Homo sapiens: one gene and its partners. The gene in region 3 interacts genetically with the main gene of each other region. Each region holds a gene or a part of one and is shown on either strand. Other genes may lie near its edges.

What was found. Genes that interact genetically often act in the same process or in processes that back each other up.
Region 1: changes in AURKA (region 3) and EMC1 together harm fitness more than expected from each alone (negative genetic interaction), as found in Homo sapiens cells (one large-scale study listed by BioGRID).
Region 2: changes in AURKA (region 3) and MBTPS2 together harm fitness more than expected from each alone (negative genetic interaction), as found in Homo sapiens cells (one large-scale study listed by BioGRID).
Region 4: changes in AURKA (region 3) and PITRM1 together harm fitness more than expected from each alone (negative genetic interaction), as found in Homo sapiens cells (one large-scale study listed by BioGRID).

What each region holds. Positions count from the first base shown.
Region 1 is NC_000001.11:19,234,525-19,238,024, reverse strand, and holds part of EMC1 (ER membrane protein complex subunit 1 isoform 1 precursor), read left to right. Parts: coding exon 1-8; intron 9-786; coding exon 787-883; intron 884-2,772; coding exon 2,773-2,895; intron 2,896-3,500. UniProt on the Homo sapiens protein: Part of the endoplasmic reticulum membrane protein complex (EMC) that enables the energy-independent insertion into endoplasmic reticulum membranes of newly synthesized membrane proteins.
Region 2 is NC_000023.11:21,853,117-21,856,616, forward strand, and holds part of MBTPS2 (membrane-bound transcription factor site-2 protease), read left to right. Parts: intron 1-259; coding exon 260-387; intron 388-2,870; exon of another isoform or gene 2,871-3,368; coding exon of another isoform or gene 3,369-3,500. Other genes in the region: transcription factor YY2, read left to right, coding at 3,369-3,500. UniProt on the Homo sapiens protein: Zinc metalloprotease that mediates intramembrane proteolysis of proteins such as ATF6, ATF6B, SREBF1/SREBP1 and SREBF2/SREBP2.
Region 3 is NC_000020.11:56,389,416-56,393,394, reverse strand, and holds the start of AURKA (aurora kinase A), read left to right. Parts: upstream 1-1,179; 5' UTR 1,180-1,227; exon of another isoform or gene 1,228-1,604; intron 1,605-2,729; exon of another isoform or gene 2,730-2,839; intron 2,840-3,979. UniProt on the Homo sapiens protein: Mitotic serine/threonine kinase that contributes to the regulation of cell cycle progression.
Region 4 is NC_000010.11:3,139,506-3,141,782, reverse strand, and holds part of PITRM1 (presequence protease, mitochondrial isoform 2 precursor), read left to right. Parts: intron 1-13; exon of another isoform or gene 14-182; intron 183-970; coding exon 971-1,096; intron 1,097-2,277. UniProt on the Homo sapiens protein: Metalloendopeptidase of the mitochondrial matrix that functions in peptide cleavage and degradation rather than in protein processing. Has an ATP-independent activity. Specifically cleaves peptides in the range of 5 to 65 residues.

The DNA.
Region 1 (3,500 bases), on a different chromosome or scaffold from region 3:
CTGAGCGGGTAAGGCAGAGCCTTTCTTTGCAGACTGTCCTGTGGGCTTCTCAGCACATGGCTTCCTTTCCTCAGGGCCAGGTCTTAGCCATGGGGCTTGGATTAGGCTCTCTAAACATGTGTTCTAGTGCTCTCTGAGCCACTGACTTGTTAGAAGTCACAGTAAAGGCGGGTATTATTTATGCCAGCTCATCATTGTGCACCAGGGACTGTTCTAAGCTTTTAACTTACACATTAATTGATTTAACCCTCCAAACACTCTCATGAAGCGGTTGTTCCTGACCTGGTTTTAAAATGATTCTGTGGCCTGGTGGGATCGAGTACCATAGCCAGAGTCACGGAGCCAGTAAGAGGTGTCACTGCGGTTCAGATTCAGGTCTAACCCCACAGCCTGGACTCCTCATCACTACCCAGTATTGCCTCTGTGTGCATCTGGTTGTGTTCCTCAGCTGCTTGGGCTGTGGCTTCTTCGTTTCTAAAGCGGAAAGTCTAATCCCGGCCTCCTGCTCACTTTGTGGGGTGTGATTAGAGCATGGATGAATGGCGTGGTACCCGTGGAGTACTCAGGTTCTTCCATGGAAAGGTCTGGGAGACCCCAGCATCATTATGTTGGCTCCTAAGAATATGTATCACTTACTGGCATCCAGATAATAGCTACATTGTTTAGACATCAAATAATGCCATGGCCTGTACCTCTGTTAAGTCCAGGCTTTGACTCCTGGGGTCTGGTGCTCTCAGAGGCATTTGGATCCTCACTGACTACACCGGTCTTGACTGTGGCTTATAGCTGTATATCCAGGTGTTCTTGAAGAAGGATGACTCAGTGGGCTACCGGGCTTTGGTGCAGACAGAGGATCATCTGCTACTTTTCCTGCAGCAGTTGGGTAAGTAGACCTCATTCAACCCATTTTTTTATTTCCCCAGGCCTTCCAATGTGTTCCAATCAGACTGTTTTTTGGGAGGCTGCAGGTTTCTGGAAGAGATTCAAGTGGAGTGTGCCCTGAGTGTTTCGTTCATAGCCAAATGTCACCTGCTTTTTTTTTTTTTTTTTTTTTTTTGAGATAGAGTCTTGCTCTCTTGCCCAGGCTGGAGTGCAGTGGCATGATCTCGGCCCACTGCAATCTCCACCTTTCGGATTCAAGCGATTCTCCTGCCTCAGCCTCCTGAGTAGCTGGGATTACAGGCGTGTGCCACCACGACCAGCTAATTTTTGTATTTTCAGTAGAGACAGGGTTTCCCCATGTTGGCCAGGCTGGTCTCGAATTCCTGACCTCAAGTGATCCGCCTGCCTCGGCCTCCCAAAGTGCTGGGATTACAGGTGTGAGCCACCGTGCCTGGCCTGTCACCTGCTTTTTTTTTTTTTTTTGAGACGGAGTTTTGCTCTTGTTGCTCAGACTGCTGGAGTACAGTGGCATGATCTCAGCTCACTGCAACCTCTGCCTCCCAGGTTTAAGTGATTCTCCTGCCTCAGCCTCCCAAGTAGCTGGGATTACAGGCATGCACCACCACGCCTGGCTAATTTTGTATTTTTAGTAGAGATGGGGTTTCACCATGTTTGTCAGGCTGGTCTCAAACTCCTGACCTCAGGTGATCCACCTGCCTCGGCCTCCCAAAGTGCTGGGATTACAGGTGTGAGCCACCGTGCCTGGCTCTTTTTTTCTTTTTTGAGACAGAGTTTTGCTCTTGTTGCCCAGGCTGGAGTGGAATGGTGTAATCTCAGCTCTTTGCAACTTCTGCCTCCTGGTTCAAGCGATTCTCCTGCCTCAGCCTCCTGAGTAGCTGGGATTATAGGCGCTAATTTTGTATTTTTAGTAAGAGACAGGGTTTCACCATGTTGGCCCAGGCTGGTCTCAAGCTCCTAACCTCAGGTGATCTGCCCGCCTTGGCCTCCCAAAGTGCTGGGATTACAGGCATGAGCCACTATGCCCGGCCCCGTTACCTGCTTTTGAAGAATAACTTGGCATTCTCGGTGGGATACAGAACTTTCCTCCTTTGACCTATTGATTCCAGCCCCTTGCTCTGCCATTTCTCCTTTTATGCAAGAGCTTGTAGTAATCCCTGAGTCAGCGAGAAGAGTCTCTCTAGAAAATCTGGGAGACAGGCTTAGCTTTTGTTTATTTATTTATTTATTTTTTGAGACAAGGTCTCACTGTTGCCCAGTCTGGAGTACAGTGGCGTGATCATAGCTCACTGCAGCCTCAATCTCCCGGGCTCAAGTGATCTTCCTATCTCAGCCTCCTAAGTAGCTGTGACTACAGGCGCTCGCCACCATGCTTGGCTAATTTTTTGATATTTATTTATTTTTATTTTATTTTATTTTATTTCAAGACGGAGTCTCGCTGTGTCGCCCAGGCTGGAGTGCAATGGCACAATCTCGGCTCACTGCAACCTCCACCTCCCGGGTTCACGCCATTCTCCTGCCTCAGCCTCCCGAGTAGCTGGAACTACAGGCGCCCACCATCATGCCTGGCTAATTTTTTGTATTTTTAGTAGAGAGGGGTTTCACCATGTTAGCCAGGATGGTCTCGATCTCCTGACCTCGTGATCTGCCCGCCTTGGCCTCCCAAAGTGCTGGGATTACAGGCGTGAGCCACTGTGCCCAGCCCTGATATTTATTTTTTGTTGAGATAAGGTTTTGCCCTGTTGTCCAGGCTGGTCTCAAATTCCTGGGCTCAAGAGATTCACCCACCTTGGCCTCCCAAAGTGCTGGGATTACAGGCATGAGCCACTGTGCCCAGCCCCAGGCTTAGCTTTGTAAAAATGTTTCCTGTAGCAGGGAAGGTGGTGCTGTGGAGCCGTGAGGAGTCCCTGGCAGAAGTGGTGTGCCTAGAGATGGTGGACCTCCCCCTGACTGGGGCACAGGCCGAGCTGGAAGGAGAATTTGGCAAAAAGGCAGGTATGAACCTAAGAGGTTGGAGCTGCAGAGTTGCTGGAGGGGCCAGTCTGGAAATGACCACAAGAGACACTGTATCATGCATCTCTGGCTTCCTAGGCTGGGCAGATTGCTAGTCTTTTCTGAATGAGCTCTGTGATGAGGTTCCGGTGCATTCATGGCCATATGGTTTATGAAACCATTCTTTTCTGTGAAAGAATGAACTGTGAATCCTTCTAGGGAAAGCTAGGGAAAAATCCCTCTAGGGAAAGCTGAGGGAAAAAAGTCTTTTTTTTTTTCTTTTTTTGAGACAAGAGTCTCGCTCTGTCACCCAGGCTGGAGTGCAGTGGCGCGATCTTGGCTCACTGCAACCTCTGCCTCCCAGGTTCAAGCAGCTCTCCTGCCTCAGCCTCCTGAGTAGCTGGGATTACAGGCATGCGCCACCATGCCCGGTTAATTTTTGTATTTTTAGTAGCAACAGGGTTTCAGCATGTTGGTCAGGCTGGTCTCAAACTCCTGACCTCATGATCTGCCAGCTTTGGCCTCCCAAAGTGTTGGGGATTACAGGCGTGAGCTGCTGCGCCTGGGGGGAATAAAGTCTTAACTTGGTATTGTAATAGCTACCATTG
Region 2 (3,500 bases), on a different chromosome or scaffold from region 3:
TTCTAAAAATTTTGAAGTTATGTCTATTTCAGTATGCCCTATTTTGCAAAATTCAATTTCACAGATAACCAAATCTGTACATTATTATAAAATTAAGATTATATATAGTATAGATATAATTTTTTTGGCTGTTCAGAGAGACTTTCTGTTTTTTAAGCAAGAATTCAAATTACAGTGAAAAGTTTTAAGATTATGTACACTATTAATTTGATAAATATAATAGTATTAGTAAACTCCTTTTTCTTATGTGATTTCTTAGGGAACAAGTTCGATTTAATGGCTTTGGGATTTTTCTCTTCATTATTTATCCTGGAGCATTTGTTGATCTGTTCACCACTCATTTGCAACTTATATCGCCAGTCCAGCAGCTAAGGATATTTTGTGCAGGTAACAGACTTAATTTTGTTTTAATATTCATCTGTGGTTTTGGTTTTGATTTTCTATGGTTAGTGCTTTTTGGAAAATATATCACAAATGACAATATCTTATCTTTTGGTTAATAACTTCAGTTTATAAGACCCCTTCAAAAGTAGAGGAGTAAAATAATTTACATTCCAGTTGCTTCCTTAAAACCAACTAAAAACAACATAATTTTAAAAAATTTAAAAACAGAGGAAAACTTTGTTTTGTCCACAACATGAAATCACAAACTATGAAGAATGTCAACTCAGCTGAAATAGAATGAAATTTGCATCAAATCAAGGGAGAATATGAAGAATTGACTAAGAGATAAATCAAAAGTATCCAGGAATGGAAAAAAAGGGTTATGAAAGGATGAGTAGTGAACTCTAGCACTGTCAGAGTTCAATCAGAGAAACAGAATCCCTTGGAGATGGAACCACAGTTCCAGCTGAGTGAAACTGACATACGACAAATCCATCACAACCCTGCATCACTTTTAATGGAATAACTGAGGCTAAGCAAGTGTGGAGTTAGAATTCTCAAACTAACAACGACAACAACAACAAAAAAAACCTGAAGGTGGGAAAAACAAAAACGGGAAATATAAATACTAATTTCCTCAACTTCATAGTGGAGAGGACATCTGCCTGAACCTGATAAATCAAGAAATAGAGGCTTGAGTATATCACTTAAGATTATAAATGTAAATACTACAAGATCTAAAAACACACATAAACTTTTCAAGTTATCACAGTGAAAGCATGAAACACAGACCAAAGAAAACAGACCCTATATCAAAAGATAAACCATGGTAATGAATTTAAGACCAAAACACATTTATTTTGTCAATAAACATAAATGAAATAAGCTCACCTACTGAAAGAAAGATGCCCTTAGTTTGTATTTAAAACATGTCCCAAATATGTGATGTACAAAATAAATCTGTGTAAATAATTACTCAAAAATAATGAAAGTAAAATGATGAGCAGAACATAACATGCAAATGGGAACAGAAAATAAGACCAAAAGCATTATATTAGACATTGGGGGCCATTTAACAATAATAAGGAATATAAGCCACAATGAAAATATAACAGTTGTGAATCTTACTGTATCAAGTAACAAACCATCAAAGCAAAACAAAAATGGGAAAAGTATAAGAAGAAACAGGTAATAAAAAGACTCACGCTTTAATACATGGCAGATAAGTATAAAAAAGTTAGGCTAAGGTAAAAATAGGTATGTCAAACTCTATACCGTGAACACAGAAGACAATATTTTTTCAAGTGCCCATGGGACTTAAAGTCACAGTAAATTCCCAAGAGAAGACTAGCAAACTAAGTAAAAACTACCTGAAATTTAGAAATTTATCTTAATCACACCTTGGATCAATTTAATTCAAACCTGTGATTTCAGTAGATCTAAAAATTATGATGATGAAATCATTTTACTGAGATAATGTTTAAAGTTTTGCTAAAAGAAAAATGCACTGCCTTAGGCAGTCATGCAAATACAAATGGAAATAGATTAGTTGAGTATTAAACTTAAGTGAGAAAAGAACTGTAAAATAATTAAGAAATGATGACGTAATTAGTAAGGATATAGGCAGAAAATAATAAATTAGAAAAAACAAAACTAGATCTGCTAAATCCAAGAGCTCTTAAAAAAAAATCAAAGGTCGAACAATGAGAAAAAGCATCTAAAGACAATTAGCAATCAGATTGGGGAATGACAATTGATAACAGAGAAAATAAAAACAATTATAAGTGTTGTTTGCTCATCTCCACAAAAAAAATTTCAAAACCCTGTATAAATATAAGAAAATAAAAATAGCTGAAATTAACCCAAGAGGCAATCAAAAAAATCTAAATAGGCAAATAATTACAATGGGAGAAATTAAGAAAGTTGATAAAGAACGCCCTTTTTCTTTTGAGATGGAGTCTCGCTGTGTTGCCCAGGCTGTAGTGCAGCGGCATGATCTAGGCTCACTGCAACCTCTGCCTCCCAGGTTGAAGCGATTCTCCTGCCTCAGCCTCCCGAGTAGCTAGGATTACAGGCACGAGCCACCACGCCCAGCTAATTTTTGTATTTTTAGTAGAGAAGGGGTTTTGCCATGTTGGCTAGGCTGGTCTCAAACTCCTGACCTCAAGTGACCCTCCTGCCTCGGCCTCCCAAAGTGCTGGGATTACAGGTGTGGGATTGCTGTGCCCGGCCCAGCTACTCTGGAGGCTGAAGCAGGAGAATCACTCGAACCCAGGAGGCGGAGGTTGCAGTGAGCCGAGATCGCGCGCCACTGCACTCCAGCCTGGGCGACGGAGCGAGACTCCGTCTCAAAAAAAAAAAAAAATCCTTAGTAAAAGTAGGAATAGCTGCATACATCATAATAGCACAACACTTTGCATTCCTATTAAAGGACAAGACAAATTCTACTATCAACTATTACTGATATTAAATGTCGTATTAGTGCAATTAAATAAGAGAAAAAAGCATAAAAGGAGTAGGCTTTTTTGGCAGATACTGTTATATGGGATGGACAGGAGGGGAAGACATGAAAATCAACTAAAATGAAATACATAAAAAATCAGTAAAGAGCCTGCTTACGAAAGTGGAAAAACAACAGCTGGGCGGGGTCGCAGGGTGGCAAACGTACGCGGGCACGTGCACGTGCTTTTGGGGCCGACAGACGCGCCAGTTGCCTAGGCGCATGCGTCTGGCTATCCCAGAAGCACCTGCGCCTTCCGGCTCGTGCTTTCCTCAGTCTCGCGCCTTTCTCTGCAGCTCGCGCCTTTCTCTGCAGCTCGCGCCTTTCTCTGCAGCTCGCGCCTTTCTCTGCAGCTCGCGCCTTTCTCTGCAGCTCGCCCCTTCCTCTGCAGCTCGCCCCTTCCTCTGCAGCTCCCACCTCACTCCCCTCAGCGTTCTTTTTCCCACGGTCTTCCCGTTGCCGCTAACCTAACTAACTCTCAGCCATGGCCTCCAACGAAGATTTCTCCATCACACAAGACCTGGAGATCCCGGCAGATATTGTGGAGCTCCACGACATCAATGTGGAGCCCCTTCCTATGGAGGACATTCCGACGGAAAGCGTCCAGTACGAGGAT
Region 3 (3,979 bases):
ACTCGAATAATTTCCGTATGCTAGCTCAATGCTTTACATGCACATCCTGTTTACCCTGCAGTAATCTGTTAATTCGTCTTATGTGAATTTAACTCTTAGTCCTAATAAGGTACCTGGAAGGATGGAGGGAAGCCATTTTTGGTTCCCCTACACCACTGTTCTATCCGGTCTCTTCACTTCTGCTGAGCACATCCCGGGTGTACATACACACACACACACACACATATGTGTGTGTATATATATGTATATGTGTGTGTGTGTGTATATATATATATATTTTAAGTGGCCCACCCCTAACTTCTCAACTCCCACAGAACGTTCACTCGCCAGGTAAACAGAAGCCTAATTATCCCCAATTTGCAGGTGAGCACACGAGGACAAGAACCCGATCCAGGACCGGATACATCGCAGTTGGAAAGGCTAGAACACAGATGCCCCCTCACTATATGCGCCGCGACCATCTGGATGCAGAGGCGAACTAAGGACTGGGTGGGAATGGAAGCGAGGCCCTTCGAGAAGAGGAAGGGGTGCAGGCCAAGCCGGGCAACTTAGGAAACGCAAAGTAGAGGCGCATGCCACCTTGCTAACTCTCGACTCTTCCAGTCTCGCCCCAGTCGTTTCTGTGGTTTTCTCTAAATGCCCCAGCCGACCGCACCAGCTACTCTCCCCGTGTCCCAGTACCAGCTGGTCCGGTTCTCTTGGTATCCCGCTCTCTCCTGGAAAAATGGAGGCGCGAATCCTGCCCAATCTACCGCTCCGAGCGCACGTTCACTGCGCACGCTGAAAGGGCGCCAAGCCGACCGCTGCGCTATCGATCGGTCCCACTCTCTCTTGCTTTTCTCGCCATCTTACTTACTGGCACGTTCAAAGGTTAGTTCACCTCCTTGGACTTTATCTCCAATGCGTCAAGCTTGACGTCAAGGGGCTGTTGCTTCACCGATAAATGGCCGACCGCGGAGAGCACCCTGGGGCTGGGACTGCCACAGGTCTGGCTGGCCGTTGGCTCCACCACTTCCGGGTTCTTAGGGAGCAAGTGCGCCTGCGCGCGGTGTGCGCCCTTAAACGCGACTCAAGGCGTCGGGTTTGTTGTCAACCAATCACAAGGCAGCCTCGCTCGAGCGCAGGCCAATCGGCTTTCTAGCTAGAGGGTTTAACTCCTATTTAAAAAGAAGAACCTTTGAATTCTAACGGCTGAGCTCTTGGAAGACTTGGGTCCTTGGGTCGCAGGTGGGAGCCGACGGGTGGGTAGACCGTGGGGGATATCTCAGTGGCGGACGAGGACGGCGGGGACAAGGGGCGGCTGGTCGGAGTGGCGGAGCGTCAAGTCCCCTGTCGGTTCCTCCGTCCCTGAGTGTCCTTGGCGCTGCCTTGTGCCCGCCCAGCGCCTTTGCATCCGCTCCTGGGCACCGAGGCGCCCTGTAGGATACTGCTTGTTACTTATTACAGCTAGAGGTACAAGGGGTTTGTTGAGTGGTGTTGACATGCGCGGGAGGGGTGGGTGGGCTTCAGATTGGATTTTGTCCTCCGAGATCACCTGGGTAAGAAAAGCACAGAAGGTCTCTGCTGTGTTGGAGTTCACGTTCTAGTGGGTGGGGAGACAGACGGTAAGCGTACGGAGAACTTGCAGCTGGGGTGGGTGTTACAGAGGAAAAGCAGGAGTGCGGTTTAACGGGGGCCGCTTTAGATAGAATAGCCTAAGAAGGCCCTTGTCCTGGCTGGATGAGTGGGTGAATTGATGAATGAGAACCTCCTTGCAGAGGCCTTCCCGGTCCGTACTTCTCAGACCGTAGACCTTGGAGCAGTTGTACCGGGATAACTTGCAGTGCTTGTTAAACATATAGCTCCACCGAGAGCCCGGTAAATCAGAATCTCTGAGGGGTAGGACCCAGGTGTCTAGTTATTAACAAACTCTCCAGATGATTCTTAGGTTTCATTGAGAACTAGGGATGCAGACCGGTGCATACAAATCGTCTGGGGACGTTAAAATGCAGAATCTGTTTTTTTAGACCTGGGGTTAGGCCTCAGAGTCTCCATTTCTAAGAACCATCCGGCTGAGGTAGACGTAGCCACTGTCCTTAACTCTCGTAATGTCTCTTCCTCTTCCGTAACCTTCCTTGTCCCTTGAATTAAACGTTTTTCAGCAACCTACTCAGTTCGTCCTTCCCTTCATCTCTGCAGACATGCACAGGTCTGAGGGAGGAAGGAATAAACCGTATAAACCTCCTGCGCTATTAGCCTAACAGCTTTTCTATTCAAAATAGTAGGACTTCTGGTTTGAACTGAATGGATCCTGTGAAAGTCATCTGGTTCTTCAATCTGGTTGCAGATTAGAGTCACCTGAAGGGCAGTCTCCTTGGCGTTGTCTCCAGAATTCTGGATTAGAATCTTATTCCATTCTGCTTGTTATTCAATTTCCCTAGAAAGAAAGGTAGAATAAATTGGAGCAAATGCCTGTAGCTTCTGTCAGAAGAATGTTGAATAAATGTTGTTAGGCCTATGTGATCTCATTAGACTGCTACTTAGAATTGTAAGGGAAGTAAAGCATTAGAGCATGTGTGAAATTAAATATTTGATTAACACAAGTGTGCATTTCCTTGTTGCTGTTTATCAACTTTTACTTACCCACTGTTTTTTTATAAGGGCTGCAGCCTGTAGTCTGGGCCTGGCTTCATCATGGAATTATTTGCTTAATTGTAAAATGGTAATCTTAATTTTTTTTTTTGAGACAGGGTCTCACTCCATTGCCCAGGCCAGAGTGCGGGGATATTTGATAAGAAACTTCAGTGAAGGCCGGGCGCGGTGGCTCATGCCCGTAATCCCAGCATTTTCGGAGGCCGAGGTGGGTGGATCACCTGAGGTCGGGAGTTCCAGACCAGCCCTACCAACATAGAGAAACCCTGTCTCTACTAAAAATACAAAATCAGCTGGGCGTGGTGGTGCATGTCTGTAATCCCAGCTACTCTGGAGGCTGAGGCAGGAGAATTGCTTGAACCCAGGAGGTGGAGGTTGCGGGTGAGCCGAGATTGCGCCATTGCACTCCAGCCTGGGCAACAAGAGCAAACTCTATCTCAAAAAAAAAAAAAAAGAAACCTCAGTGAAATGAAAGACTGAACTACACACCTGGGGGAAAAGCGTAATAAAGGGAGCAAGAAGTGCAAATGCTTATGGCAGGGGACTTATTTGCAGAAAGAAAGCCTTGTGTGGCTGGTACACGGTTGACAAGAAGAGGAGATGAAGTCAGAGAGGTAGTTAGGGTCCATGTTCTGTGAGACTTCAATAGGCCTGTCTATGCAGGTTAGGAGTTTGCATTGTTTTGATTGAGTTGGGAGCCATGGGGGTCTTCTGAACTGAGGATCAACACATCTGATTTGTTAATGAGATTGCCGGCCTCAGTGTTAAGAATGGACCATGACAGGGTAAGGGTGGAAGTGGGGAGGCCATTGGGAGGCTGTTGGAAAAAACTCAAGGGAGAGAGAATAATGGTTTGACCAGGTGGTAGTAGTAGAGGTGGTGAGCAGTGATCTTGAAGGCAGAGCCTACAGAATATGCTGGTGGATTAAATGAAGGGTTTGCGAGAGAGAACCTCGTAAAGGGTTATTATGCCAAGGCTTTTGGCCTGAGCAACTGACAGGATGGGTTTGCCATGCACTGAGATGAGGATGTCTAGAGACTAGATTTGGGGAGGTGAGAGTGGGGAGAGATTAGGACTTCTGTTTGGGACATGTTAGAATGGAGATGCCGCTCAGATAATCAGGTGCAGATGTTGCATAGAAAGTAGAAAATGTAGATCAAGAGTTCAGGGGAGAGGTCTGGGCTGAAGAATGAATATTTGGGAGTCCTCAGCCTGTAGATGGTACTGAAAGCAAAGAGACTGGATGTACTCGGCTAGGGAGTAATTGGAGATGGAGAAGTCATTCTAGGCCTGAGCTCAGGGCACACCCATGAACAGGGAGGTGAGAAGTGGAGAAGGGAAGAGGTT
Region 4 (2,277 bases), on a different chromosome or scaffold from region 3:
CTTGATTTCCCACCTGGCCTATTTGACTCCCTTCATCCACTTTAGGAAAAGGCCTGTCTGTGGAAGCGGCGACCTGGGGCTGATCTCACCACGGGCGTCTTCAAGGAGCCTGTGTCTGTGCTGCAGACCCTCCCATCATTGTCTGCCCCGCCTTCTGTCGGAGGTGGATGTGTTCTAGAATCAGCTTGAATGTGATGTTACCGTTCACAGTGGAAGGCAGAGGAAATTGGCCCTGTTCCTAGAAATGTGCTTTATCAGAGAGTGTGTGTTTTCTTAAGGGATTCTTATAAAACTCACTTCAGTTTCCTTTCTTTCCATATTCTGATGTGAGACATTTAAATAAATGTTCATTTGCTCATTTGCCTTTATAATAGAAATAACCTCTTTCTACTTCACGAGATTTTAAAAATGCCACATGTGCATTGGAACAAGTTAAGCAGTGTGGTGCTGGAAGTGTTAAGATTCCCTCCCCACCACCTCTCCCTTCAACCCTGTAATCTAAGCCAACTGTTTGAAAATTGTGCTTCCTTGTGCTTTTTAGTTTTGGTTAATTGAAAAGAAAATCTCATGCCTGTAAGCTCAGCACTTTGAAGGCAGGAGGATCACTTGAAGCCAGGTGTTTGAGACCAGCCTGGGCAACAAAGCTAGACCCTGCCTCTACAAAAACTGTAAAAATAGTCAGGCGTGGTGGCACACACCTGTAGGCCCAGCTACTCAGGAGGCTGTTGTGGGAGGATCCCTTGAGCCCAGGAGTTCAAAGCTGCAGTGAGCTGTGATTGCACTAATGCACTCCAGCCTGGCGACAGAGCGAGACCCCATCTCTTAAAAAACAAGACCAAAATATGGGACCATAATTTATGCAGCATTATTTTACAACTCGATTTTCATTTTCACTTAATCCAACAATTACTTCATTGTCTATGCTTTTTTATCAGCCACGGTATTAACTTGCATTTTTTAATCATTTCAGTCTTAAAATCCTTGCACGTTTGATGACTGCCAAATTCTTGCATACAGAAATTCGAGAAAAAGGCGGTGCTTATGGTGGAGGCGCAAAACTCAGCCACAATGGGATTTTCACCCTTTACTCTTACAGGTGAGTTTTGCTCTAGTTCACACATTGGGATGCACACGTCGTTTTAGTCTTCTACTCATGATTATCAGTGTCATTTTCTTCTACTGCAGTGAATTTTAGACAAAAGTTGTTCTGTGTGCTTCTTTTCACTCCTTGGGCACTTAGCCACACCCAGCAATGTCCTTTCTGGCGCGAGGATTAGGGCCAGCAGCCGAAACAGGAAGCATTCTGCCTTCAGTAAACCCTGGCTTCAGCCAGCATATTTTGGCAGAACACGGTAGTGCCTCCATCCGTGGGTTTGCCTTCCATGGTTTATTACCCACAGTCCCCCTCGGTCTGAAAATATTAAATGGAAAATTCCAGACATAAACACTTCCTAAGTTTTAAATTGTACACCATTCTTCTAAGCAGTGGGATGAAAGCTGACGCTGTCTACGGTACCTGCCTGTTGGTCACCCAGTAGCCGTCTAGGTATCAGATACGCTGTGGGTATCCAAGAGCTTCTGTTCACAGAACCCTTGTTTTACTTAATAGTAGCCCATCAGCGTAACTTTTATTACAGTATAATTGTTGTATTTTGTTAATATCTTGCTGCACCTAATCTATAAACTTTATCATAGGTATAGGAAAAAAACATAGTATCCATAGTGGCTGTCTGAGGTTGCAGCCCTGCCGTGGGGGTCCTGAAACACAGGCCCCAGGTGAGGGGGCTGATACAGCCTGAGAGCGTTCTTAGCTCATTTCAGTTGGAGGTGCCTGATGTGGATGCAGTTCTGTTAGCTTTCATAAACATAACACCGTTACTGTAAAGCAATATTCTTGATTTTCTATGGCTTTGCTGCCTAAGAGAACATGTATTCCAACAGTTTTTAAGAAGGAGCCAGCCGGCCGCAGTGGCAAGTGCCTGTGGTCCTAGCTACAGGAGGCTAAGGCGGGAGGATCCCTTGAGCCTGGGGAGGTTGAAACTGCAGTGAGCAGATTGCGCCACTGCACACCAGCCTGGGCGACAGTGAGACCCTGTCCCGTGGATGCATAGCTAGATTAGGTAGGTAGGCAGGCATGTAGGTAGATACGTAGGTAGCCATTGCCACTCTGATGAGTTCTCCCCCTTGCTGTGCTGGAAGCCATGCTTCTAGACAAGGATGGGGAAGCAGCTCACAGCCGCCCCTCTGCAGCTCAGGGTGAAGGGAGGGCTGGGCTCT